Linked DNA regions of Homo sapiens. The protein of the gene in region 1 interacts with the protein of each later gene in a biochemical or structural test. Each region holds a gene or a part of one and is shown in the gene's direction. Other genes may lie near its edges. The genes, in order: TRIM25, PITX2, ERCC2, PLAAT4, DICER1, USP15 and YWHAQ.

Region 1 (4,189 bases):
ACAGAGCCTGACCAAGAGGGATGAGTTCGAGTTTCTGGAGGTAGGTCGCCACAAGGCATTGTTGAATGTTTTTTTTTTTTTTTTGCCTGATGTCATGCTGTTGATGATAGGGCCCTCAAGGAGCGGGAGACTGGAAGAGGTCACTGGAAGCATCCCTGAGACACACGCTGTATTAGTTTTCTGAGCTGGGCAACAACTTACCACAAATGTAGGGGCTTCAAAAAACACATATTTATTCTCTCAGAGTTTCTCTGGCTCAGGAATCTGGACATGGCTTTATGGGTGGCCTGCATAGGGTCTCACCAGGCTACAGTCTGCGAGGGATGGCCAGGCTGTTTCCTTTGGAGCTCAGGGTTGTCTTCCAGGCTCATGTGGTTGTTGGCAGAATTTAGTTCCTTATGGTTGTAGGACTGAGGCCCCCCGCAATTTCCTGCTGGCTGTCTCTCAGATTGATAGCTGACTTCTTCAAGGCCAGCATGAGAATTTCTCCTCTAGAAAGATGCAATCCCTCTTTTAAGGTCTTTTACCTGATTAAGTCAGGCCCACCCCAGATAATTGCCCTTTGATGAACTCAAAATCAATTGATTTGAGATGCTAATTACACCAGCAATATTCCACCCCCTTTGCCACATGACATAACCTAATCACAGGAGTGATATCCTATTTCATTCACCGTCCTGCCGATACTGAAGGGGAGGGCATACTATAGGGTATGTACATCAGTCGGGGTCGGGGGCTTGAGGGCCATCTTAGAACGTTGCCTGCCACTCACACTCCACCTCTTCCTCCCATCCTTCCTCCAGCAGCTCCTGGAAGTGTGTGTTAGTAGTCCCTTTTGCATTGCTATAAAGGAGTACCTAAGACTGAGTTATTTATTTATTTTATGTATTTATTTTGAGATGGAGTTTCACTCTTGTTGCTCAGGCTGGAGTGTAGTGGTGTGATCTTGCTCACTGAAACCTCTGCCCCCAGGCTCAAGTGATCCTCCTGCCTCAGCCTCCTGAGTAGCTGGGATTACAGGCGCACGCCACCATGCCCAGCTAATTTTGTATTTTTAGTAGAGACGAGATTTCACCATGTTGGCCAGGCTGGTCTCGAACTCCTGACCTCAGGTGATCCACCCACCTCGGCCTCCCAAAGTGCTGAGATTACAGGTGTGAGCCACTGCGCCCAACCAGACTGAGTAATTTATAAAGAAAAGAGGTTTATTTGGCTCACAGTTCTACAGGTTGTACAAGCATGGCACCAGCATCTGTTTGGCTTTTAGTTAGGCCTTTGGTGAGGAAGGAAGCTTTTACTCATGGCAGAAGGTGAAGCTGGGAGCAGGCATGTCACAGGGTTAGAGAGGGAACAAGAGACAGAGGAGGAAGTGCCAGCCTCCGTTAAACAACCAGTTTGTGCAAGAACTCACCTGTTACCATGGGGAGGGCACCAAGCGGTGCATGGGGAATCCACCCCCACGACACGAACACCTCCCACCCTGCCCCACCTCCAACACTGGGAATCACATTCCAACATGAGATTTGGAGGGGACAAACATCCAGACTGTATCAAAGTATCTGTCTAAAGCATGGGCCCCCTGCTGTTTCTGGCCTCATGTCCCTTAACATGGCCTGCAGGGTCCTAGGTGACTGGGCCCCGCCTGTGCCAGCAGTCTCATCTCATATCATCCATCCCTGGCTCATGCCCTATGCACTCACTGTTCCCCAGACACAGTGGGTGTGGGTGGGATGCCATGCTGGGCATTCTTGCCTAGTGAGTCGTATCCTTCCAGGGCCTTGGATCCCATTGCCATGCCGTATCGGTGTTCCCAAGCATGCCACACTGTTTCTACAGTAACATTGGGTGATGTTGTTTCAGATGTGCATTTTTTCATGGCTGTTTTGACTGTAAGCCCATCTCTTATTACCCCCATTCATCCTCCTGCCAATCTGACCAGCACATAGCAGAGTGCTTGGCATATAGTGGTGTGCCCCATTGATTGAGTGACCTGCAGCTATACCTGAAAGACCCAGATTCCTTGTTCAGATCAGGGGGTGGGGAGACAGTGCAGGAGTGAATGGGAACCTTGTCTCTGTGCACTGAGGCCTGATGCGTGCCTAGTCTGGATGGCGTTAAGTTTCATCCCAAGTGTTCATTCCTGTCTGTTGGAGCAGCTGCCCCGAGCTCTCGAAGGATCTGAGTGCACATCTAGGCTTCTTGATACTGTACAACCCTATTTTTCTCAAAGTTTGGGACTTCCAGGAAGACCCTCCCTTCCCATAAGATATTCCCTGGCTGCAATCCACATCCCTTGAGATGTCCCTGTCTGTTACCAGAATGTGTGATTAGAGCTGTTCCCCTAGGATTGGGGTGGTCCTGAGTTTCCTGTGCTTTTCCACCTTTAGCTGGAAAAGTGGAAAGAACATTGTCCTGGGGGATCGGAAGATCTCAGTCCCAGCTGTGTCTGTGCCCCTAGCTGGTGGAGTTCCTGCCATGTCTAGACCTCAGTTTCCCCATCTGTAAGATGAGTGACCTCTGGGGTCCCCTCCAGCTCCAGATTACTGTGTCTTCAAGTGTCATTTAAACTCCTGGTGACCTCTGGCCTGTAATTTGAGAAGGCCAATTGGACTTAGCACTCTTGGGCATAGGGGAGAGCCTCCTGGGGTTGGTGAGGACTGAGCCCAGGTCCCCGTTTCACCAGAGCTGCCTGCACTAACCCCCTGGCATGTTCCAGAAAGCATCAAAACTGCGAGGAATCTCAACAAAGCCAGTCTACATCCCCGAGGTGGAACTGAACCACAAGCTGATAAAAGGCATCCACCAGAGCACCATAGACCTCAAAAACGAGCTGAAGCAGTGCATCGGGCGGCTCCAGGAGCCCACCCCCAGTTCAGGTGACCTTAGCAGCCCCCTATGCTGCCCCCTGTGGAACCCTGCAACCCGATGGGTCCCCTAAATGTTTTGGGATGGGAGATTGGGGCGTGATCCCGAGCACTGGGGCCTGAGTTTCAGGGCTCCTGAAACATCCGCCCTCTGTCTGGAGGCTGGTGGGGAGTCTGCTTCATCCTGACATTTTAGGATCTTTCCTAAAGCATTTTTGGGGACTTGATGTTAATGCTTGGACTTTCTGGACAGATAGGCTCTTTTGGCCTGTGATCTTGAGGCCAACTTGGATGGGTTTTGAATAAGCTAGGGCTTGTTATTGTGTTTGGTGGGGGAATGGCCCGTTTGGGGGAGAAATCTAGAATTCCTCTTTGACACCCCCTTTTCATCACCCCATATCCAATCCATTGCCAAATTTCACTTCTTTCAATCTCCTGACTCAGTCTGCTGATCCTAGCACTGCTTGCCTGTTCTCCATTGCCATCACCTGTCGCCCCATGACTGTAGCAGCTTCCTAAACCCTCTGCATCTGCCGCTGCAGCCAGAGAGGGATTTTCATGATGCAGAGCTCATGTCCTGGGACCTATTCTGCTTTGCCCTCTCACTAGGCTTCCTATTACTCCCTGATGCAGACCAAACCCTTGACCCTGGTCTAGATGCCAGGTCAAGCCCTGTTGGTCTCTCTCCAGCCCCAAGGCGCCCCCCACTCTCCTCTGGTGCATCTCTCTGCATTCAGTTCCTCAAATATGCAAAACTTCCTGCTACAGGGCCTTTGTGTTTGCTCTTCCCCACTCTCCAGAAGGCTTGAACTCCACCGTCTTCACTAATTAACTCCTCTCACCCTTCAAAGATCAGCAAAACATTACATTTATAGCCAGCCTCCCCTGCCACTGCTCCCACTCCTCAGACTGGGCCCAGGGTCCTTGTCATCCTCTTGGGACTCTTGCATGGGTAGTATCGCATTCTTCCTTGGGATCCCCGTATATCTCCCTCATTAGGTTGTGATCTCTGTGAGGTCAGGGGCTGCGGCTTATTTATTTATTTATTCAGGATCTTGCTCTGTCGCCCAGGCCGGAATGCAATGGCGTGATTATAGTTCACTGTAACCTCAAACTCCTGGGATTAAGTGATCCCTCTGCCTCAGCCTCCCGACTAGCTAGGACTATAGATACACACCATCATGCCCGGCTAATTAAAAAAAAATTTTTTTTTTTTTGAGACGGAGTCTCGCTCTGTCACCCAGGCTGGAGTGCAATGGCCCAATCTCTGCTCACTGCAACCTCTGCCACCCAGGTTCAAGCATTTCTCCTGCCTCAGCCTCCTG
Region 2 (3,844 bases), on another chromosome or scaffold:
GTGCTCTGGGTAGAAAAAATAAAGCCCCCGGTTAGAGCAGAGCAAACAAAAAGAAGAAAACAACGATAAAAAGAATAAAGACCAAAATGCTCTCCCAAATCAGAGGGAATGAAGACACTCTCTGGGTGGCATTTGTGCAAGGCATGAGGCTATGCTGGTGGATAAAAGGCCGGGAAGAAGTTGAAAATGGTTTTAGTTTAACTGTCCAGAGCCAGAGCTGGGTCCTGGGCGGCGTGGTTTTGAGCAAGGTCAGTCTTTCATTAGCTCTCTTGCACATCAAGGGAACGGGCCTCTCACGTACTCTTCTCGCCTGAGCAAAGTTTAGATGGCCTAGGGTAGAAATGGCAAGTAATTAAAGACAGAGTCTATGGGTTTTCTGGGATCCTTCGAAAACGCCCTCCCACCCCGCCCGCTATTCCGCAGCTCCACCCTAGTGCTTTGTAGCCGCGGCGCTGGGCTCTCCTTGCAGCTGCCTCTCCTTCCAGGGCGGCTGCTTGTCGAGCCAAGTGGGAGTGAGGCGTGCTTTTTATAGCAGTCGGGTGCAAAGAGGAAGGGGGATAAAAAGGAAATCAAGAATGAAAGGAAAAAGAGAAAAAGCGGATTACACGGCTGGGCCCGGCGGAGATGTGTAATGTGAAACATCACTGGTGTCAGCTCGGATATCTCAGGCCAGGCCTCTCTCCAATACACAAAAGCCGCCGTCTGGGGCGACAGGGAGGCCCGATGTGGATTGGGATCGGGGTTGCGGCTGGGCCACCGGACACGGGTGGAAGCCGGCCGGCCTGGGTGGCCGCCTGCAAAGCCAAACGACCCGGCTGGGCCTGGCGCGCGGACAGGCCTGTGGTGGGCTTAGGGTAAAGAAGAGGCAGAGCGAAAGAAGGGGGAATCTCCAAAACTACCCTTTCCGGGTTCCCGGAGTTTAATATGCCAAGCTCCTGGAGTTAACGAGCTGACGAAGAGGTGGTCTTTTGCTCTTTATTTGGTTGTTTTGCTAGGCGAGAAAGAGTGTTGGCGGCCTAGTCCCTGTTAAGGGAGCACGTACCAGGGGGTGGGGGACGACAGTGGAGGTCAGGGAAGGAAGGGAGGAATTGCGTGGGAGAAAGAGCGATCCTCTAGTGCCCTTCCAGCCCCTTCTCCTCATCCGTGGGTCTGTGGCTTTGGAATGGAAGCAAGTTTGCAAGGTGCCCCGGGAAGGGTTGGAAAAGCCTGCTGCCCCGCGTTTGTTTTACATTAAGTGTTTTTGGACCTGGAGAAACGCCTGGCTGAGTGATCAAACCGTCCGCAGGTCTCCATGCGTTCGGCTGAGGTTTGTGGCGTAGCTCCGAGTCCCAGCTCGCAGGCCAGAGCAGACCAGGTCTCCTGCGCTTGGTGGAGACCCGGGCCAGTAACTGAAAGCTGGCCCTGGTATCTTGGTGTGCAGGGCGGTGCAGTGAAGCGAGGCCAGGGTGTGTGAGTGCGCTAGCGTGTGTGTCGGGGGAAGGCGGGGGTTGGCCTCCGATGGAAGTTTTAGTAATCTGCACTGTGGCATCTGTTTGCTCCCTTGCCCCAACCGCCCCCAGGTTTGGTTCAAGAATCGTCGGGCCAAATGGAGAAAGAGGGAGCGCAACCAGCAGGCCGAGCTATGCAAGAATGGCTTCGGGCCGCAGTTCAATGGGCTCATGCAGCCCTACGACGACATGTACCCAGGCTATTCCTACAACAACTGGGCCGCCAAGGGCCTTACATCCGCCTCCCTATCCACCAAGAGCTTCCCCTTCTTCAACTCTATGAACGTCAACCCCCTGTCATCACAGAGCATGTTTTCCCCACCCAACTCTATCTCGTCCATGAGCATGTCGTCCAGCATGGTGCCCTCAGCAGTGACAGGCGTCCCGGGCTCCAGTCTCAACAGCCTGAATAACTTGAACAACCTGAGTAGCCCGTCGCTGAATTCCGCGGTGCCGACGCCTGCCTGTCCTTACGCGCCGCCGACTCCTCCGTATGTTTATAGGGACACGTGTAACTCGAGCCTGGCCAGCCTGAGACTGAAAGCAAAGCAGCACTCCAGCTTCGGCTACGCCAGCGTGCAGAACCCGGCCTCCAACCTGAGTGCTTGCCAGTATGCAGTGGACCGGCCCGTGTGAGCCGCACCCACAGCGCCGGGATCCTAGGACCTTGCCGGATGGGGCAACTCCGCCCTTGAAAGACTGGGAATTATGCTAGAAGGTCGTGGGCACTAAAGAAAGGGAGAGAAAGAGAAGCTATATAGAGAAAAGGAAACCACTGAATCAAAGAGAGAGCTCCTTTGATTTCAAAGGGATGTCCTCAGTGTCTGACATCTTTCACTACAAGTATTTCTAACAGTTGCAAGGACACATACACAAACAAATGTTTGACTGGATATGACATTTTAACATTACTATAAGCTTGTTATTTTTTAAGTTTAGCATTGTTAACATTTAAATGACTGAAAGGATGTATATATATCGAAATGTCAAATTAATTTTATAAAAGCAGTTGTTAGTAATATCACAACAGTGTTTTTAAAGGTTAGGCTTTAAAATAAAGCATGTTATACAGAAGCGATTAGGATTTTTCGCTTGCGAGCAAGGGAGTGTATATACTAAATGCCACACTGTATGTTTCTAACATATTATTATTATTATAAAAAATGTGTGAATATCAGTTTTAGAATAGTTTCTCTGGTGGATGCAATGATGTTTCTGAAACTGCTATGTACAACCTACCCTGTGTATAACATTTCGTACAATATTATTGTTTTACTTTTCAGCAAATATGAAACAAATGTGTTTTATTTCATGGGAGTAAAATATACTGCATACAAATTGGTCTGGATTCTTTCTCCCCTCCTCTGTCACTAACTTGGCCAGGACATCTCAGTCACTGCTTCCTAAACAAACCAGTTCCCTCTGCCTGCCTAGTTAAACATACAAGGCAGCAGTCCTTATTTAAATTTGGTAGAAATAAATGATAGCCATTCATCAGAAACTAAAAAGAAAAAAAAAGGCATTCCCGGGGGGGAAAAGGGCTACAAAATCTAATTTTGTCTCTCCAATTTTTCTTTGGCTTAAACCTAGAGGATTCCATTATGGCTAGCAAATAATATGAAAAAGAAAAAAGAAGAAAGAAATTTAGCAAGTCCATCAGCTTAAAATGACTCTCAAGTTTACTCCTTTACGGGGAAACCTACACCTCTAGCAAATTGTTCTGGAGAAATATTTGTGCATGTATACATGTATAGTTTATATGCATTTCTCTCAGGAGGAATACATCTATAATAAATTTACAGGGAAACATCTCCAGTTCAAAATATTTAGGCTTCCACGTTTATCTTCAGGCTTAAGTAGAGAGATCCTTCATGTTATATTGCATTACTATTTCCAAATCCTTTGGAGACATTAAAAGAAACAAAGATGATTTCTAATAACTACAGCCCTTCAGTTTCTCAAAGAACTCAGGGGTTGAGAGGTTAGAGTGGAGTTTCCTGAGTCTTGTCGAGCAATATGTAGTTGAGGCAAAGGTCATGCTCCCGGTGTTTTGTTTTAAATAATATTGACCCATTAATTCTAAACCTGCTTGTTCCTGAAATTATACAGGATTATAGTTTGCAAACTGCAGGACAATGAAGCAAATCAAGATGAATTACAGCCCTGGCCCTCCCTGCCATCCTCTGACATCTAAACAGGGAATGAGTTCGGTGTGAGTGTTTAAATGAACTTTAAGCACCCGATCCTTCTTTATCCGCGATTTTCAGCTTTAAAAAAATGTGAAATTTGATTTCATAACAAATAGAAACAAATACCACTTAGTCCCAGAGAATTCATCCTCATGGCGCTAGGAGGGT
Region 3 (4,189 bases), on another chromosome or scaffold:
GTTGCTGATGATAAAATTGGGTGAAATGTTGCAGCCGATGCCCTTAGCATGTACAAAGAGCTAAAAGAATGTTAGAAATTCTCATGATAGGCCAGGTGCAGTGGTTCACGCTTGTAGTCCCAGCACTTTGGGAGTCTGAGGTGGGCAGATCATTTGAGGTCAGGAGTTCGAGACCATCCTGGCCAACACGGCGAAACCCCATTTCTACTAAAAATACAAAAATTAGCCGGGGGTGGTGGTGTACACGTCGGTAATGCCAATCGCTTGTACCCAGGAGGCAGAGGTTGCAGTGAGCTGAGGTCATGCCACTGCATTCCAGCCTGGGTGACAGAGTGAGACTCTGTCTTAAAAAAAAAAAAAAAGAAATTGTCATGATATTTATATGCATAATGATATATGACAAATACAATATTAGTTATCATTAAATTATGCTATAAAATCATTGTACTTGGCTGGGCATGGTGACTCACGACTATAATCCCAGCACTTTGGGAGGCCGAGGCGGGTGGACACCTGAGGTCGGGAGTTTGAGACCAGCCTGGCCAATATGGAGAAACCCCGTCTCTACTGAAAAAAAATTGAAAAATTAGCTGGGCACATGCCTGTAATCCCAGCTACTTGGGAGGCTGAGACAGGAGAATTGCTCGAACTCCCGAGGGGGAGGTTGCAGTGAGCCGAGATCGCGCCACTGCACTCCAGCCTGGGCAACAAGAGTGAAACTCCGTCTCAAAAAAAAAAAAAAATTGTACTCACTGTGTGCCAGGCACTGTTCTGAATACTTTACATGTGGTAACCCACAGAATGTATATATGTGTATATATTATACTTACATATATATGTGTGTGTATATATGTTTTTATATGTGTGTGTGTGTGTGTGTGTGTGTGTGTGTGTATATATATATATATTTTTGTTTTGTTTTGTTTTTGAGACGGAGTCTCACTCTGTCACCCAGCCTGGAGTGCAGGGGAGTGATCTTGGCTTACTACAAGCTCCGCCTCCCGGGTTCAAGCAATTCTCCTGCCTCAGCCTCCTGAGTAGCTAGGATTACAGGTGCCCCACTACACCCGGCTAATTTGTGTGTTTTTAGTAGAGACGGTGTTTCACCATGTTGGTTAGGCTGGTCTCTAACTCCCGACCTTGTGATCCTCCCGCCTCAGCCTCCCAAAGTGCTGGGATTACAGGCATGAGCCATCGTGCCCAGCCTTATTTATTATTATTATTTTTGAAATGGAGTTTCACTCTTGTTGCCCAGGCTGGAGTGCAGTGGCGTGATCTCGGTTCACCACAACCTCCACCTCCGAGGTTCAAGTGATTCTTCTGCCTCAGCTTCCTGAGTAGCTGGGATTACAGGCACCCACCACCACGCCCTGCTAGTTTTTTGTATTTTTAGTAGAGATGGGGTTTCATCATGTTGGCCGGGCTGGTCTCAAACTCCCACACTGGGCCCACAGACTATATATTATATCACATTATTTGTAAGAATATGTGAGAAATAATACATCTAGTGGATGACAAAGAGCACAGGCCTCGGTGACTGATGAAAGGGGAAATGGAGAAGGAAGGGCTGGCTGCCTTGGAGCTTTCCTTTTGGCGTAGGAAAAGGATTTGTTCTTCAGAAAAAGCCTTAGGCTGTGATGGTGCCTTAGAGGGTACAGAGCAGGTCAGGGGTAAGGGGAGTCCCAGACTGTGTGGAACCTCCTTTGATTCTTAGGCCCTGCCAAGGTTCCATGCGTTTTGGCATTTCCAAGGATGAAGTAGTTATCTTCAACCTATATGCTAAAGATTTTTCAGGCTTATTGTTTTAAAATATTAGTTTTGGGCTGGGCACGGTGGCTCACACCTATAATCCCAGCACTTTGGGAGGCCGAGGCGGGTGGATCACCTGAGATCAGGAGTTCGAGACCAGCTTGATCAACATGGAGAAACCCTGTCTCTACTAAAAAGACAAAATTAGCCGGGTGTGGTGGCACATGTCTGTAATCCCAGCTACTCGGGAGGCTGAGACAGGAGAATCGCTTGAACCTGGGAGGCGGAGGTTGTGGTGAGCCAAGATCGTGCCATTGCACTCCAGCCTGGGCAACAGAGCAAGACTCCGTCTCAAAAAATAAAATATTAGTTTTGGCTGGCTGGGCGCAGTGGCTCAGCCTGTAATCCCAGCACTTTGGGAGGCTGAGGTGGGAGGATTGCTTGAGACCAGGAGTTTGAGACCAGCCTGGGCAACATAGCAAGACCTCATCTCAACTAAGAAGACAAAAATTAGCCGGGCATGGTGGTGCACACCTGTGGCCGCAGCTACTCGGGAGGCTGAGTGGGGGAAGGATCACTTGAGCCTGGGAGGTCAAGGATGTAGTGAGCCGTGATTGGGCCACTGCATTCCAGCCTGAGTAGCAGAGGGACTTGTCTCCAAAAATATGTATGTATAACTTGTAGTTGTAAGAATGTAACAATTTTGCTACTCTTTTTTTTTTTGAGAGGGAGTCTGGCTCCGTGGCCCAGGGTGGAGTACAGTGGCATGATCTCGGCTCACTGCAACCTCTGCCTTCTGGGTTCAAGGGATTCTCCTGCCTCAGCCTCCCGAGTAGCTGGGATTCCAGGTGTGCACCACCACACCTGGCTCATTTTTGTATTTTTATTTTTACTTATTTTTTTGAGATGGTGTCTCACTCTGTCGCCCAGGCTGGAGTGCTATGGCACGATCTCTGCTCACTGCAACCTCCACCTCCCGGATACAAGCGATTCTCCTGCCTCAGCCTCCCGAGTAACTGGGATTACAGGCATGTGCCACCACGCCTGGCTAATGTATTTTTAGTGGAGACAGGGTTTCACCATGTTGGCCAGGCTGGTCTCGAACTCCTGACCTCGTGATCTGCCCACCTCAGCCTCACAAAGTGCTGGGATTACAGGCGTGAGCCACCGCGCCCAGCCCAATTTTACTACTCTTGTATCCCTGCATTAAGTTCCCACGCGTCTTAACTAATAATGCAACAGACTGAGGTTCAAGTTGTCCAAAACCCCAGCCAGCTGGGAGGTGTGGAGACCAGGGTTTGAAGAGTGGTTGGGTTTCCACCCTGTCTGGGTGCTAAGATGCCCCACACCCCCAGGTGACACCCCTGCGCTTTGGGAAGGACGTCGATGGGAAATGCCACAGCCTCACAGCCTCCTATGTGCGGGCGCAGTACCAGCATGACACCAGCCTGCCCCACTGCCGATTCTATGAGGTTACTGGAGGGCAGGGCTGAGGGAGGGAGGCAGGACAGGTAGCCTGGGGCAGGCAGCCTCCCTGACCCCTGGCACTCTTGTCCCAGGAATTTGATGCCCATGGGCGTGAGGTGCCCCTCCCCGCTGGCATCTACAACCTGGATGACCTGAAGGCCCTGGGGCGGCGCCAGGGCTGGTGCCCATACTTCCTTGCTCGATACTCAGTGAGGAGGCTGGTGGGATGGGCAGAGGGGCGAGTGTGAGGGTGTGGGCTGCCCGCCCGTCTCCTGTCTGCCCATGTCTGTCTGTTGCTTGCTGTGAGTCTGCCTGTCTGCATCTCCCTGTTGGTGGGTGCCCGTATCTGTTGGTCTGTCTCTATCCATCTGCTCATACTTCTGCCTGGCCTGTGTCTGCCTGTGCAGGCCTGTGTGGGAGTGACGGGCCAGTGTGGCCAGGGGTAGGGGTAGGGGTTGGGGTGGCAGGGCCCTGGTAACCCTGCTCCCCGGCCCCCCAGATCCTGCATGCCAATGTGGTGGTTTATAGCTACCACTACCTCCTGGACCCCAAGATTGCAGACCTGGTGTCCAAGGAACTGGCCCGCAAGGCCGTCGTGGTCTTCGACGAGGCCCACAACATTGGTGAGGGGGGCGCCAGGGGCCAAAGGGATGCCAGCCCCTCTGAGTGAGGCCCCTGCAGGCCTGCCTGAGCCGGCTCTCTCCCCCTTCTCCAGACAACGTCTGCATCGACTCCATGAGCGTCAACCTCACCCGCCGGACCCTTGACCGGTGCCAGGGCAACCTGGAGACCCTGCAGAAGACGGTGCTCAGGTGGGGCCGGGGACGTCTGGCGGTGGTGCCCGCCCTGCCCCTGGGACCCTGGCCCCTGTCTGACTTGTCCCCAGGGTTGCCAGCCCCCTCCCAGCCCCAGCTCATCTCTCCGCAGGATCAAAGAGACAGACGAGCAGCGCCTGCGGGACGAGTACCGGCGT
Region 4 (4,189 bases), on another chromosome or scaffold:
AGTGACAGCAGGGCTGAGGATCTCATGGGGCTAGCAGCTGATGAACATCAGCAAGGCGTCTCCAGGATGAGCTGCAGCTCCCCCAGCCAGGGTCTCTGCTGTTGCCTAGAAGGCCGGGTACTCCATCTCTGGCTTTTCTGTTGCAGCCACACCAAGAGCCCAAACCTGGAGACCTGATTGAGATTTTCCGCCTTGGCTATGAGCACTGGGCCCTGTATATAGGAGATGGCTACGTGATCCATCTGGCTCCTCCAAGTAAGGACTGATGAATATATAATTTTCAAAATATTTGTTAAAAGGATAATGAGAGGGCCGGGCACGGTGGCTCATGCCTGTAATCCCAGCACTTTGAGAGGCCGAGGTGGGCAGATTACCTGAGGTCAGGAGTTCAAGACCAGACTGACCAACATGGAGAAACCCCATCTCTACTAAAAATACAAAATTAGCCAGGTGTGGTGGCACACACCTGTAATCCCAGCTACTCAGGAGGCTGAGGCAGGAGAATCACTTGATCCCCGGAGGCAGAGGTTGCAGTGAGCCGAGATCGTGCCATTGCACTCTAGCCTGGGCAACAAGAGCAAAACTTGATCTCAAAAAATAAAAAAATAAGTCAATGAGAGCCACTGAAAGACAGTTAAGCAAGGGAAACTTGAGTTAGGAGACACATTCTTCTTAGAGGATGCTTGATGAGATTGCACACACATATGTCCCATGAAGTAGACACAGTGCATTCCATAGGTCCTGGCAGAACGGAAGAAGAGACCGTTGCCTCCCGCAGCGAAGCTGGGCTGCTTCAGCATTGGGATCTCTCCAGCTCAAAGTCAGTTACCTTGGCATGCAGAATCTCATACGACTTAAACCAGCCAGGTTTCTTAGGTCTTAAAGAAGAAAGTTTCTCAAAAGGAACAATGTTTCTCCGTGCCAGATCCTTTGCCTCATATGTTTTCACACAACAAGGTGTCTTGATATTATATACTTAAGATTCCTTACTGGGAGCAATTCTCACAGGTTTATACATTTTTTTAAAATTCTCATACAAATACACAGTAAGCAATACCAATGTTTTATTTAACTCATTAATAACAGAAGCAGAAATATGACATACCCAGTTAAAAGCAGAATGAAGGAAACGTATGTATGGATAGCCAATGAAAGGGGAAAAAACGAACACAGAGGCCAGGCACAGTGGCTCACTCCTATAATCCCAGCACTTTGGGAGGCCAAGGCGGACGGATCACTTGAGGTCAGGAGTTCAAGACGAGCCTGGCCAACATGGTGAAACCCCGTCTCTATTAAAAATACAAAAATTAGCTGGGGGTGGTGGCAGGCATCTGTAATCCCAGCTACTCAGGAGGCTGAGGCAGGAGAATTGCTTGAACCTGGGAGACGGAGGTTGCAGTGAGCCGAGATCCTGAGACAGTGCCACTGCACTCCAGCCTAGGAGACAGAGGAAGACATTGTCTCAAAAAACAACAACAAAAATGCAGAAATGAGACAATGAGACTGCCAAATTAGGTAGGTGCAGGCAAGTTCATATCCTCTAGGGCAGTGCCACTACATAACTTCTCATGTTCTCTTTTCACCAAGCATTTACATTGTCACTGGACAAAAACCATTCCCATCACTATCAGGGCAAGACATTTGCATCTTATCAGTTTTCTCCAAGCCATCATCTCCCAGGCAGGATTGTAAAAATGTCTGAATTGATGGAAAATAGTAAATCAAGCCCACTTAATCCAGATGATCCTCAGGGACCTTGTAAGACAAAGCATGGCAATGAAGACACATGGTCCTTTTTGTGCCTAACTTGCAGTGTGTAAAGAGGCTTTTTTTTTTTTTTTAAGACAGAGTCTTGCTCTGTCACCGGGATGGAGTACAGTGGTGCAATCTCAGCTCACTGCAACCTCCGCCTCCCAGTTTCAAGCGATTCCCCTGCATCAGCCTCCCGAATAGCTGAGGCTACAGGCGCATGCCACCACAGCCAGCTAGTTTTTTGTATTTTAGTAGACATGGGGTTTCACCATGTTGGCCAGGATAGTCTCGATCTCCTGACCTCGTGATCCACCAGCCTCGGCCTCCCAAAGTGCTGGGATTACAGGCATGAGCCACCGCGCTCAGCCGTAAAGAGGCTTTTTAAAGACAATTTTTCTCTCTTTCCTTTTTTTTTTTTTTTTTCCTCTGAGACAGTGTCTTACTCTGCCATCCAGGCTGGTGTACAGTGATGTGATTACAGCTCACTGCAGTCTTTTTTTTTTTTTTGCATAAACATTCTGATTTAATAAATGGTATGAATATATATTTTGCATACTTTACAATAAAGAAAATTTTGAAAGAAAATTGATCTAAAACTGTTTCCCTCCAATTTCCATGGTAAAGTCAACTGCATACAGTTCTTTCCATGTATAAGTTTTACATTTGTATTTTCTACAATTAAATAAATCTAAATGTTAAATTTTAGCACATATATCCAATTATGTACAAAATTACAATGTCAATTTATAAGTCAAGCTTACTTAAAAATCATAAATTACAAAAAACACATTATGAATAATTTTGTTCTGGAAGTATCATACCAACTCATACGATCTAGGTGAACCCAAAAGTAAAAAACAATGATTATAAATTACAGTAGTGTCTGTAAAACCCTGTTATAAAGGAGGTATTCTTTTAAAATATGTACCTTATATATAAAAGCTCCTGACTCCTTTTAAGGACCAAAATTATTTTCAGTTTAACCATTTTCATTAAAATGCTTATTTAAAAGTATCGCCTTATAAAACTGAGTATATAAAATACAATGCAGCCCTTGATAACTAAGAATCTTTATAAATGCTAATTATTTAGTGACCTGTTTATCAAACTATTTCTGTGGATGGGGTGATTTTTTTTCTTCCTCTAAATTAAGTGGCCCTAGACTAATATATTTATATAGTTATTCTGTTTTCTTCCGTACTGTCATTTCACATCTCTATCAGTGAGTTCCTCAGGATTTGCCTTTATTTTACAACTATGAAAGTCTTCAATCCAATTCCCTGCTTCCACACATAGGACACAGAAAGCCTAAACTTTCCTTTTTTCTGGGCTCCAATGGGAAGCAGCATTTACAACGTGTCTGGCTTGGTAGGAGGAAGATTGTCAATTGAGGTATCATGTGTGTTCACCTGCCTATCTTGCCCTATTTCTTTGGTTGCTGTAAATTTCCTGCTTCTCAAATATCTGGATTTTTGGCTACCTATTTGGCTTCCGTCTTTGGTGTTTATATCTGTCTGGTTTTAGCAGGTCTCTCTGATTCCTGACTCACAGCTCCTCTCCTTCACTAATATTCAAGTGTGCTGCTTGCCTAACTCCTCATTCCTTCTCCTTGAATTTCACTTTACAATTGCACTAGGTTCTATCATCGTTGGCCACAGATTACCACAAAACATAATTTCTTAAATTCTGCACATTTCTAATGCTTCTAATCTTGGTTTCCTACAAGATCTAACACTAAGCTTGTGTTATCCTGATTACAGTGTATGTAAAACAATGCTTGTGGAAAACTAACCTAGGAGAAAGCTTATAGGGGAAACCTGATAATGAATTTTATTAAATTAATAACCCTTATAAAAATTTCAAATGTAATACTACCTGGATTTGAACTTCAATACTTTTCTTAAGTAAAATTCTTAACCACGGTAGAAGTTATGTTTGTTGATGTTCACTCATCTATACCCTCCATATTCTCAGCAAAGTTGGCATAAATCTGACCTGAATAAATAGGGTTATAACATTATCAGGCTTGTAAAATACTTTATCAAATCAATGCATCAGTTAAAGCAGGGGTCCCCAACCCTGGGCTGTGTGTGGCCTGTTAGGAATCGGGCCACACAATAGGTGAGCTGAGAGGCAGGTGAGTGAGCATTCTGCCTGAGCTCCGCCTCTTGTCAGATCAGTAGTAGCATTAGATTCTCATAGGAGTGCAAACCCCATTGGGAACTGCACATGCAAGGGATCAGGCTCACTGCAGTCTTGACCTCCCCGAGTTCAGGCCAGGTGATCCTCCCACATCAGCCTTCTGAATAGCTGAGACGAGATGATAGGCGTGTGCCACCACGCGCAGCTAATTTTTGTATTTTTTGTAGAGACAGGTCTCGCCATGTTGTCCAGGCTGGTCTCGAACTCCTGAGCTCAAGTGGTCCACCTGTTTAGG
Region 5 (3,590 bases), on another chromosome or scaffold:
AACATTTGTTTTACTATTACAATATAGTAGGCATACCATAAATGGTATTTCCCCCCTTACTAAAGAAGTAACAAAAGTCATATATCCAAGAAAAGAAACTACATCTGTGGACTGCCTGTAAAAGTGGCCTTTTTGCTTACAAGTCACTTTTCCCTCTGTAATAGCTTAGGAGATCTGAGGAGGATGAAGAGAAAGAAGAGGATATTGAAGTTCCAAAGGCCATGGGGGATATTTTTGAGTCGCTTGCTGGTGCCATTTACATGGATAGTGGGATGTCACTGGAGACAGTCTGGCAGGTGTACTATCCCATGATGCGGCCACTAATAGGTATTGTTGGCTCCCTTTAGAAAGAAAAAAACCCACAAAATTAAAAACAACTTCAGAGATATTATTCATATTATTCTTTCATTTTGATTGCAGAAAAGTTTTCTGCAAATGTACCCCGTTCCCCTGTGCGAGAATTGCTTGAAATGGAACCAGAAACTGCCAAATTTAGGTAAGCAAAAAATGTACATGGAAAAAACATTAACTTAAAAACATCAAAGGGGAAAAGTTCACAAAGATATTGTAAACTAATGATTCTGAAAAATATTTACACTGTGGTGTGCTGTTGTCAGATTTCTGTTTGTAATCTGATTGACTTCTCTTTTTTCCTTCTGTTTTTATGAAATAATGCTGTAATAAAGACTAGACGGCAGCCCTGTCTGTCGGGGGTATGCAATTGCAGTAAGTCGTAACGCGTGTTTCCTTTGTGTGGTGTCAGCTTATACATGGGACTCCTGGCCTGAGAGTGCACACTAAATGCTGATTGACAATGATAATAAATACTTCTGACTTCTAATTCAAGCTGTTTGGATTTTTTACAGCCCGGCTGAGAGAACTTACGACGGGAAGGTCAGAGTCACTGTGGAAGTAGTAGGAAAGGGGAAATTTAAAGGTGTTGGTCGAAGTTACAGGATTGCCAAATCTGCAGCAGCAAGAAGAGCCCTCCGAAGCCTCAAAGCTAATCAACCTCAGGTTCCCAATAGCTGAAACCGCTTTTTAAAATTCAAAACAAGAAACAAAACAAAAAAAATTAAGGGGAAAATTATTTAAATCGGAAAGGAAGACTTAAAGTTGTTAGTGAGTGGAATGAATTGAAGGCAGAATTTAAAGTTTGGTTGATAACAGGATAGATAACAGAATAAAACATTTAACATATGTATAAAATTTTGGAACTAATTGTAGTTTTAGTTTTTTGCGCAAACACAATCTTATCTTCTTTCCTCACTTCTGCTTTGTTTAAATCACAAGAGTGCTTTAATGATGACATTTAGCAAGTGCTCAAAATAATTGACAGGTTTTGTTTTTTTTTTTTTGAGTTTATGTCAGCTTTGCTTAGTGTTAGAAGGCCATGGAGCTTAAACCTCCAGCAGTCCCTAGGATGATGTAGATTCTTCTCCATCTCTCCGTGTGTGCAGTAGTGCCAGTCCTGCAGTAGTTGATAAGCTGAATAGAAAGATAAGGTTTTCGAGAGGAGAAGTGCGCCAATGTTGTCTTTTCTTTCCACGTTATACTGTGTAAGGTGATGTTCCCGGTCGCTGTTGCACCTGATAGTAAGGGACAGATTTTTAATGAACATTGGCTGGCATGTTGGTGAATCACATTTTAGTTTTCTGATGCCACATAGTCTTGCATAAAAAAGGGTTCTTGCCTTAAAAGTGAAACCTTCATGGATAGTCTTTAATCTCTGATCTTTTTGGAACAAACTGTTTTACATTCCTTTCATTTTATTATGCATTAGACGTTGAGACAGCGTGATACTTACAACTCACTAGTATAGTTGTAACTTATTACAGGATCATACTAAAATTTCTGTCATATGTATACTGAAGACATTTTAAAAACCAGAATATGTAGTCTACGGATATTTTTTATCATAAAAATGATCTTTGGCTAAACACCCCATTTTACTAAAGTCCTCCTGCCAGGTAGTTCCCACTGATGGAAATGTTTATGGCAAATAATTTTGCCTTCTAGGCTGTTGCTCTAACAAAATAAACCTTAGACATATCACACCTAAAATATGCTGCAGATTTTATAATTGATTGGTTACTTATTTAAGAAGCAAAACACAGCACCTTTACCCTTAGTCTCCTCACATAAATTTCTTACTATACTTTTCATAATGTTGCATGCATATTTCACCTACCAAAGCTGTGCTGTTAATGCCGTGAAAGTTTAACGTTTGCGATAAACTGCCGTAATTTTGATACATCTGTGATTTAGGTCATTAATTTAGATAAACTAGCTCATTATTTCCATCTTTGGAAAAGGAAAAAAAAAAAAACTTCTTTAGGCATTTGCCTAAGTTTCTTTAATTAGACTTGTAGGCACTCTTCACTTAAATACCTCAGTTCTTCTTTTCTTTTGCATGCATTTTTCCCCTGTTTGGTGCTATGTTTATGTATTATGCTTGAAATTTTAATTTTTTTTTTTTTGCACTGTAACTATAATACCTCTTAATTTACCTTTTTAAAAGCTGTGGGTCAGTCTTGCACTCCCATCAACATACCAGTAGAGGTTTGCTGCAATTTGCCCCGTTAATTATGCTTGAAGTTTAAGAAAGCTGAGCAGAGGTGTCTCATATTTCCCAGCACATGATTCTGAACTTGATGCTTCGTGGAATGCTGCATTTATATGTAAGTGACATTTGAATACTGTCCTTCCTGCTTTATCTGCATCATCCACCCACAGAGAAATGCCTCTGTGCGAGTGCACCGACAGAAAACTGTCAGCTCTGCTTTCTAAGGAACCCTGAGTGAGGGGGGTATTAAGCTTCTCCAGTGTTTTTTGTTGTCTCCAATCTTAAACTTAAATTGAGATCTAAATTATTAAACGAGTTTTTGAGCAAATTAGGTGACTTGTTTTAAAAATATTTAATTCCGATTTGGAACCTTAGATGTCTATTTGATTTTTTAAAAAACCTTAATGTAAGATATGACCAGTTAAAACAAAGCAATTCTTGAATTATATAACTGTAAAAGTGTGCAGTTAACAAGGCTGGATGTGAATTTTATTCTGAGGGTGATTTGTGATCAAGTTTAATCACAAATCTCTTAATATTTATAAACTACCTGATGCCAGGAGCTTAGGGCTTTGCATTGTGTCTAATACATTGATCCCAGTGTTACGGGATTCTCTTGATTCCTGGCACCAAAATCAGATTGTTTTCACAGTTATGATTCCCAGTGGGAGAAAAATGCCTCAATATATTTGTAACCTTAAGAAGAGTATTTTTTTGTTAATACTAAGATGTTCAAACTTAGACATGATTAGGTCATACATTCTCAGGGGTTCAAATTTCCTTCTACCATTCAAATGTTTTATCAACAGCAAACTTCAGCCGTTTCACTTTTTGTTGGAGAAAAATAGTAGATTTTAATTTGACTCACAGTTTGAAGCATTCTGTGATCCCCTGGTTACTGAGTTAAAAAATAAAAAAGTACGAGTTAGACATATGAAATGGTTATGAACGCTTTTGTGCTGCTGATTTTTAATGCTGTAAAGTTTTCCTGTGTTTAGCTTGTTGAAATGTTTTGCATCTGTCA
Region 6 (4,189 bases), on another chromosome or scaffold:
AGAGACAAAATTAAATAATTGTTTTTGTTTTCTTTAAGGATTTATTCTGAGATATGTGCCACATCAAGTTGAAAAAGTAATTACTAAATTCTCTTTGATGTTTTAAATAGTAAAGGATTCTTTATATAAGTTGTAGCCTATTAAGAGGGATGGGAATGTCTTAAAAAATACGATTACAGTGTTGCCTTAATTTTATTACTGTGTTTTTCATAATAGCCATTATACTATTAATTCATTTTAGTTACCTTTTTTCCAAGAAATTTTAGCTATGTAATCATTTTGAGAGAAGCTTTTTAGGAAAAATGTAGTGATATATTTTGTGGTGTTATTCCATTAGAGCCCAGATTTGAGATTTTCTAATACCTGTCTTCCAGCACAGATTTGTGACCTATGTCTTTTTTGCATACTAAAAGAGAAATAATCTAGCCCTCATTATGTCTTTAAGTATTTATTTGTATATTAATTTGTAATGGTTTAACCTATTTGGAAAATGTCTTGAAAATAAAAATAATAAGAGTTGCTTTCAACCTGGTACATATTAGGCATACTATAATTGCCCACTGAATAAATGTAGAACTTTCCAAACATTTTTGTTTATTATTTTCATTAATGGGGGTTGTTTGTACCTCTATCAAGTGTTAAATACTTCTGTTTATTCTTAGGTATTGTCCGAATTGTAAAGAACATCAGCAAGCCACAAAGAAATTGGATTTATGGTCCCTGCCTCCAGTACTTGTAGTACATCTCAAGCGATTTTCTTACAGTCGATACATGAGAGACAAGTTGGATACCTTAGTTGATTTTCCTATCAAGTAAGCTTTAATTGTACTTTATAAGCATTGGGCAACTCTTCTTTCAAACTTATTTGATGCTTTTTGTTATTATCCTTTAGTAAACATCAGGTGCCATTGGACCCAATTTCAGCTTTCAAGTTTGTTTTTGAGTAGTTCTAACAGTTTATAAGGATCAGTGTTTCAAAATTTTTATTTTTTCTTAGAGATTTTCCAAAGATCAAAGAGAAAATATACTTTAAAAAAATAAAAACAATAAAAATCCTTCTGTGTTATATTACCTATGGGTTAATTGGTCTCATTTATAAATCTAAGATACTTTATGGTACTTAGTGATTTTGTTTATCCTAGGAATTACTTCATCATTACTCATCACTTACTCCTAAATATGTTGGGGTTTTTTGGTGTTTCTTTTGTTTGTTTTTTGAGACAGGGTCTCACTCTGTTGCCCAGGCTGGAGTGCAATGGTGCAATCTCGGCTCACTGCAACCTCCACCTCCTGGATTCAGGTGATTCTCCTGCCTCAGCCTTCCAAGTAACTGGGATTATAGCCACCCGCCATCATGCCCGGCTAATTTTTAGTACAGACGAGGTTTCACCATATTGACCAGGCTGGTCTCGAACTCCTGACCTCAAGTGATCCACCCGCCTTGGCCTCCCAAAGTGCTGGGATTACAGGCATGAGCCACTGTGCCCAGCCCTAAATATGCTGTTTTCAAAAAGACTAAAATAAAACAACAATGGAATTGCTTAGAAGGATAACACAGTAGTGAAATAAATCATCCCTATTGCATTATCCTTCAGTTTTCCTATTGCCATTATATGACATCATATTTGTAAAAAGATATATCTATGGCCATACCACCTTGAACGTACCCTGATCTTGTCTGTAAAAAGATACAAAGAAGTCTGTATACATCTTCACACTTTATCTCTCTTTTTTTCTTCCCCTGCTTTTAACAGTTGAGAATTCAGAATGACAAAAAGGGAACATTGTATTCCCCGTCACTTAGTTATTCAGCAGAAGGACTTCATCACACAATATTTTGTACAAGTACTTGGTACTATCCCATTTTGCAAAAAGAACTTTCAGCGGTATTATTTCATATCCTGTGATATTTGTACACCAAAATGTACTTGATACAGTTAGTAAGTAGACAATTGCTAAAGGCAGGTGTATCTATAAAGGTAACTAGAAGGAAATAGATTACATAAAACAAAATATTCACTGGATTACTCATTCTAATTGGTGGCTATAAATTTAAAATTTAAAATTATTTGTAATTATTGAGTGAAAAAAAGATCATTTTCTCTTTAACAAAATAGTGAGCCATAAGTTTTCAAGAATATAGCATTTGGCAATGTAAGTATAAGAAAAAGAATCAGGGCTGGGCACAGTGGCTCACGCCTGTAATCCCAGCACTTTGGGAGGCCGAGGTGGGTGGATCACAAGGTCAGGAGAGCAAGACTATCCTAGCCAACGTGGTGAAACCCCATCTCTACCAAAATTCAAAAACATTAGCCGGGCATGGTTGTGCGCGCCTGTAGTCCCAGCTACTCGGGAGGCTAAGGCAGGGGAATCGCTTGAACCCAGGAGGCGGAGATTTCAGTGAGCTGAGATCGCGCCACTGCACTCCAGGCTGCCTGGCGACAGAGCGAGACTCCCTCTCAAAAAAAAAAAAAAAGAATCAGAAGTAATGACAAACTAGAATCTATCAGAGATGTATTTAAAATTTAGAATCATTATTGCTTTTTAATGATGCAAATACAAGAAGAACAACCAGAAATAATAATAAGCTATTTACAAGAAGTCGTTTTCCAGGTTCTTGAATGATAGATTTTGATTAGTCAGTTACATTCAAAGGATGTTGCCCATTTCGGGTATATAGGTCATCAAAGACAGCAAATGTAGAATAAAAATTAAGGTTTGATATATTAATATTTTTTAAAACTTCTAAGGAAGTTTTCACTATTCCTGTATTTTTCTTCATATAAATCACTTCCTCTTTTTTAATCTCTGACCCTGCCCATAAATTACTTTCTAAAATTGACTGTAAAATAAAGATCTACTGGACCCAGATGGTCAATAGTGATGACTGTTTTTCCTGGTATACTGAGAGTTAAATGTGTTAGCATGAAAACGTTTATCTGAATGACAACATTCCACATTTTTATTTTATTTTATTTTTTTATTTTTGTGGGTACATAGTAGGTGTATATATTTGTGGGGTACATGAGATGTTTTGATGGAGTGTGAAATAGTCACATTATGGAGAATGGGGTATCCATCCTCTCAAGCGTTTATCGTTTGTGTTATAATCCAGTCACACTCTTAGTTATTTTTAAATGTATAATTAAGTTATTATTGACTATAGTCACCCTGTTGTGTGATCAAATAGTATGTTTTATTCATTCGTTTTTTTTTTTAACCCGTTAACCATCCCCACCTTACATCTCCCCTACCTTCCCACCACACTTGTCATCCTCTAGTAATCATCCTTCTACTCTGTCTGTCTATGAGCTCAATTTTTTTTTATTTTTAGATCCCACAAATGAGAACATGGGATGTTTGTCTTTCTGTGCCTGGCTTATTTGATTTAACATAATCTCCAGTTCCATCCATGTTGTTGGAAATGGCAGGATCTCATTCCTTTTTATAGCTGAATAGTACTTCATTGTGTATATGTACCAGATTTTCTTTAGCCATTTATCTGTTGATAGACACTTAGTTCCATCAACATTGCAACACATAGTTTCGTCAAATCAACAAGATTTGGTTGTTTCCAAATGTTAGCTGTTGTGACCATTGCTGCGACAAACATGGGGAGTGCAGATATCTCTTCAGTATACTCAATGAAGCATTTTAAAATTTTCAACCCATAAACAAATGTTTGCCAAAACATTAATATCTCAGAGGTACATGTATGATTTGTTTTGTAAGTTATTTGACTCATGATAATTTCCTTAGTGAGATATATATATATATAGATAGATATATATAGATGGATAGATATAGATATATATATGTATGTCAAACAACAATGGCAGAAGGGAATAGAATTCATTGCATTTAGGGACAACATAAAAATTAACTTGGTTTCTTTTTTAAACAGTGACTTGGATATGTCGGAATTCTTAATTAATCCAAATGCAGGTCCTTGCCGCTATAATCTGATTGCTGTTTCCAACCACTATGGAGGGATGGGAGGAGGACACTGTAAGTTGACAGTTTGCCTTTTTACCCAAATCATGGTGTTTGAAGAACTCCAGACTTTTTTCTTTAAGATATTTATTACTTCTTAAGGATAAAATATCAGATGTGTCTTGCATATAGTAGTTCAGTATTGATTAATGAATGAGTCAGCTTTTGAACCTTTTTTTTTTCACATAGGGTATAG
Region 7 (4,189 bases), on another chromosome or scaffold:
TTAGTGTTGGTAATACTGAACATTTTTTGAAGGGGGAGTAACATTTTAATTAGGCTAGTAATCAAACTCTGGTCAGAGCAGATTTTGTCCTATTTATTGAAACTTTTATATTGCCTTTCAAATAATACCACTTGATACTAAGAATCAGTATTTCTGCAAATCAGAAAAATAGAGATTTTGGTGTTGATGATCTTTGTAAAGTTTACATTATTTAGGGAAAGGGTATTCCAGTCAAATTATTATTATTATTATTAATTTTGAATGGAGTTTTGCTCTTGTTGCCCAGGTTGAAGTGCAATGGCGCGATCTTGGCTCACCGTAAGCTCCGCCTCCCGGGTTCAAGTGAGGCTTGTGCCTAGCCTCCCAAGTAGCTGGGATTACAGGCATGCATCACCACTCCCATCTAATTTTTGTATTATTAGTAGAGACGGGGTTTCTCCATGTTGGTAAGGCTGGTCTTGTACCTCCAACCTCAGGTGATCTGCCTGCCTCAGCCTCCCAAAGTGTTAGGATTACAGGCGTGAGCCACTGTAAATTATTCCAGTCAAATTATTTTTAATTGCTGCATTTCCAAGTAATAGAATTAAAAGACATAAAATAAGAAAATAGTTTTAGCCTAGGTATGGAAAAAAGTCTGATTTACTATAATATCTCATGTTTTTTTTCCATTAAGCTGTTTATATGTAAGCAACATTCTAAACTGGTTTTTTGTTTTGTTTGTTTGTTTGAGACAAACTGTCACTGAGGTTGGGAGTGCAGCAGCATGATCTTGGCTCACTGCAGCTTCAACCTCCTGGGCTCAAGGGGTCCTCCCACCTCAGCCTCCCAAGTAGCTAGAGCTACAGGCACGCACTACCATGCCTAGCTATTTTTTATTATTATTATTTTTTGTAGAGACAGGGATAAGATCTCCCTGTGTTGCCCAGGCTGGTCTTGAACTCTTCAGGTTCAAGTGATCCCCCTGCCTCACCTTCCCAAAGTGTTGGGATTAGAGGCATGAGCCACTGCACCTGGCCATAAACAAGTTCTTAAATACCCAGTACACAATATTGTTTTTGTTTGTTTGTTTTTGACACAGAGTATCGTTCTGTTGCCCAAGCTGGAGTGCAGTGGTGTGATGTCGGCTCACTGCAACCTCAGCCTCCCAGGTTCAAGCGATTCTCATGCCTCAGCCTCCTGAGTAGCTGGGATTACAGATGCCCGCCATCACGCCTGGCTAATTTTTGTATTTTTAGTAGAGATGGGGTTTCGCCATGTTGGCTAGACTGGTCTTGAACTCCTGATCTCAAGTGATCCACCCACCTCGGCCTCCCAAAGTGCTGGGATTATAGGCGTGAGCCACCGCGCCTGGCCACGATAATGTTTTTTGTTAGCTACCATGATTTTAAAAGACCCATACAGAGAAAAAATCTTGGTTCTACCAAGAGCTAGTAGCATATGTTCAAGTTGTTAATGTACTGTGTACTGGATGGTTATTTTTAATATTGCACTTCTTATTTTTCGCTCTTCACAGAAACGATAGATAATTCCCAAGGAGCTTACCAAGAGGCATTTGATATAAGCAAGAAAGAGATGCAACCCACACACCCAATCCGCCTGGGGCTTGCTCTTAACTTTTCTGTATTTTACTATGAGATTCTTAATAACCCAGAGCTTGCCTGCACGCTGGCTAAAACGGTAAGATGTGTGTCCAGGAAATACGTACTTTAGCTACAGTTATTTGAGATACCAGGTATGTTAATTTATAGGTATTTTACTTGGATACCCAGGGATGATTTCTACTATATTTATTTTGAAATCTCCTCTTTTTCTTCCCATCATGATTACCTACTCCTACCCCTGACACCTTACTCTACCCTATGATTATAAGCAGTGATGTGCCTACAGAGCATACTGAGCAGAGTAATCAAAGAAGGATAAATGATGTTAAGAAGGAAACATAAAAGATTAGAAAGTCATGCCTGCCAGGTTTGGTTACTAGAATAGCTGTGCATCAGCCACATTCCTCAAAGTGGCTCAAAACGAGAGAATAAAGAGGACCCTGTAGAGATAAGTACTACTTAACTGGAAAGAAGTCTGTTAAGCATTGCTGCTGTTCCGTTGTCCTGTGAAAGAACCAAGACATGCTTGTTTACTAAGTGTATAGTTTTATAAAATTCCAGTCATACTCATAAGTTCTTAAACTGGGAGTGTGAGAGAATGGTTCTGTTGAGTTTGTTGATGGTAGAACATAAGGTGGGTGTTCACTTATTTTGTAAAAATGGTTTGTAATTGTAGAATAACCAGTTTTCGTCAATGCACATATTTTACCATGGATATTAATATTTATCAGGCTTTTGATGAGGCCATTGCTGAACTTGATACACTGAATGAAGACTCATACAAAGACAGCACCCTCATCATGCAGTTGCTTAGAGACAACCTAACAGTGAGTTGTTTACTCTTTTAATTTTATTTTCTTTTCAGAAACAAAAGTATTTATATTTTATTTTGGACTTCGTGTCTTTTAGGGAAGATACATACGAGCTGAAAGTATGAGATACGTGTTAGTATTTTATGGGACGAACATTATTTTGTAGGCAGGTTTTCAAGTTGAATAGGCATTTTATCAGACCTTCCTGAGAAGGTTCTAACATGATAGGAACTCAATATTAATATTACTATTTCATTGGGATGAAGATGTTGATAAATTATGTTAATAAAGAGCTTATCAAGTTTCAATATTTTGGGGCAAATCAGCTATAGCCAGTTAGGGACTATCTAAATATCTACGCTTTCTTAAAATCACAGGAAGTACCTTGTTCTAATAAAAGTTTACTTTGTGAATTGTGCATGATGTTCTACAAGCATTTAGGGAGTAAACCTATACCTAAACTTACTCCTTCTCTGCTTCTAGGCAAAAGCTTCTGTTTTGTTTGTCTTTTTCTCCCTGCTTCTTAGATAGGCAATTGATAAAGGAAGTAATCAAGAAAAAGTACAGCTTAAGCTTTACTTTAACATTCTTTTGTAGGTTCAAGTAAATTTGATAGGTAAAATCTTAGACTTCACAGAAGGAAAAAGAAGGGAACAAATCTTTTAATATAGATCTCGTCCTCCCAGCCCCCTAGTTTGGTGCTTTATCATTTACTAGATAGGATTTTTTAAATATTAGCACCATGTCTATTCAATTTTGCTGAATAGGGTAATTATGAATCCACTGAAAGGGGAACGAAGACCCTGCATTTCTAGCCATGAGAAGTGCCTGTGGTTGTGAGGGGACAATGGAAGATGATCAGCAAATAGTTCTACAGAGGAAGAGCAAATTAGGCAGTTATACCTCTTCCCAGATGTATACCTTGGAGCTAACTATCTTTTAATCGGTTTTGTTTTGTTATCTCTATTATGGAGACAGGTCTTTGGGGGATTTTGTTTTGTTTGTTTTTATTTAGTATCTTCATAATAATCTAAGGATTATGTAAGATTCTGGCTTTTCTGAAATTAACACTAATGTCTTGCTGTTGGTCTAATAAAGTGCAATTATAGTCAATAAATACTGACTTCTCTTCTTCACTTCATCTTCCTATCCTAAAATCAGAGAGATCCTGGAAGATCCACTTAGTTTTAACATTCTGTCTAATTCAAGAACCCTGTCTATACATGCACACATTGCTTCCCTGTAGCTTCCATCACCCACTTCTATTTAATTCTTGGAGAAACACAAAGTAAGTCTGCTTTTCCTATAGTTTAGCCCTTCACACACTTGAAAATTGTTAACCATGATTGTGGCTTTTTCCTCCCTGTGAAAATGTTTTGCTTTATTAGTCTGTAATAATAATGCAGTAGTGCTTTCAAGAAGAGCATTGGGCTGCTGGGAATAGAGACTATCACTTTGCTTATTCTGAAAGTAGAGTGCCTTTTTAAAAAAGTTTCTCTTTTTTTTTTTTTTTTTTGAGAAAGGATCTCACCCTGTTGCCTAGGCTGGAGTGCAGTGTCATAATCATGGATCACTCCAGCCTCAACCTCCTGGATTCAAGCAGTCCTCCTGCCTCAGCCTCCTGAGTAGTTAGGACTGTAGGCACACACCACCCCGTACCTGGCCAATTTTGTTTTTGAAATTTTTTGTAGACGTGGGATCTTGCTATGTTGTCCAGGCTGTTGAACTCCTGGCCTCATGCGATCTTCTCATCTTGGCCTCCCTACGTGCTGAGAT

Evidence for each region.
Region 2: the proteins of TRIM25 (region 1) and PITX2 form a complex in vitro, tested with the Homo sapiens proteins (one study listed by BioGRID).
Region 3: the proteins of TRIM25 (region 1) and ERCC2 form a complex in vitro, tested with the Homo sapiens proteins (one study listed by BioGRID).
Region 4: the proteins of TRIM25 (region 1) and PLAAT4 form a complex in vitro, tested with the Homo sapiens proteins (one study listed by BioGRID).
Region 5: the proteins of TRIM25 (region 1) and DICER1 form a complex in vitro, tested with the Homo sapiens proteins (one study listed by BioGRID).
Region 6: of the proteins of TRIM25 (region 1) and USP15, one has a biochemical effect on the other in vitro, tested with the Homo sapiens proteins (one study listed by BioGRID).
Region 7: the proteins of TRIM25 (region 1) and YWHAQ form a complex in vitro, tested with the Homo sapiens proteins (one study listed by BioGRID).

Annotation. Positions count from the first base shown.
Region 1 is NC_000017.11:56,900,106-56,904,294, reverse strand, and holds part of TRIM25 (E3 ubiquitin/ISG15 ligase TRIM25), read left to right. Parts: coding exon 1-40; intron 41-2,716; coding exon 2,717-2,876; intron 2,877-4,189.
Region 2 is NC_000004.12:110,616,404-110,620,247, reverse strand, and holds the end of PITX2 (pituitary homeobox 2), read left to right. Parts: intron 1-1,559; coding exon 1,560-2,123; 3' UTR 2,124-2,825; downstream 2,826-3,844. UniProt on the Homo sapiens protein: May play a role in myoblast differentiation. When unphosphorylated, associates with an ELAVL1-containing complex, which stabilizes cyclin mRNA and ensuring cell proliferation.
Region 3 is NC_000019.10:45,364,074-45,368,262, reverse strand, and holds part of ERCC2 (general transcription and DNA repair factor IIH helicase subunit XPD), read left to right. Parts: intron 1-3,104; coding exon 3,105-3,221; intron 3,222-3,308; coding exon 3,309-3,425; intron 3,426-3,715; coding exon 3,716-3,839; intron 3,840-3,931; coding exon 3,932-4,028; intron 4,029-4,143; coding exon 4,144-4,189. UniProt on the Homo sapiens protein: ATP-dependent 5'-3' DNA helicase. Component of the general transcription and DNA repair factor IIH (TFIIH) core complex, not absolutely essential for minimal transcription in vitro.
Region 4 is NC_000011.10:63,539,370-63,543,558, forward strand, and holds part of PLAAT4 (phospholipase A and acyltransferase 4), read left to right. Parts: intron 1-146; coding exon 147-255; intron 256-4,189. UniProt on the Homo sapiens protein: Exhibits both phospholipase A1/2 and acyltransferase activities. Shows phospholipase A1 (PLA1) and A2 (PLA2), catalyzing the calcium-independent release of fatty acids from the sn-1 or sn-2 position of glycerophospholipids.
Region 5 is NC_000014.9:95,087,940-95,091,529, reverse strand, and holds part of DICER1 (endoribonuclease Dicer), read left to right. Parts: intron 1-164; coding exon 165-327; intron 328-420; coding exon 421-496; intron 497-866; coding exon 867-1,032; 3' UTR 1,033-3,590. UniProt on the Homo sapiens protein: Double-stranded RNA (dsRNA) endoribonuclease playing a central role in short dsRNA-mediated post-transcriptional gene silencing.
Region 6 is NC_000012.12:62,392,391-62,396,579, forward strand, and holds part of USP15 (ubiquitin carboxyl-terminal hydrolase 15), read left to right. Parts: intron 1-662; coding exon 663-812; intron 813-3,904; coding exon 3,905-4,008; intron 4,009-4,189. UniProt on the Homo sapiens protein: Hydrolase that removes conjugated ubiquitin from target proteins and regulates various pathways such as the TGF-beta receptor signaling, NF-kappa-B and RNF41/NRDP1-PRKN pathways.
Region 7 is NC_000002.12:9,585,653-9,589,841, reverse strand, and holds part of YWHAQ (14-3-3 protein theta), read left to right. Parts: intron 1-1,513; coding exon 1,514-1,677; intron 1,678-2,332; coding exon 2,333-2,428; intron 2,429-4,189. UniProt on the Homo sapiens protein: Adapter protein implicated in the regulation of a large spectrum of both general and specialized signaling pathways. Binds to a large number of partners, usually by recognition of a phosphoserine or phosphothreonine motif.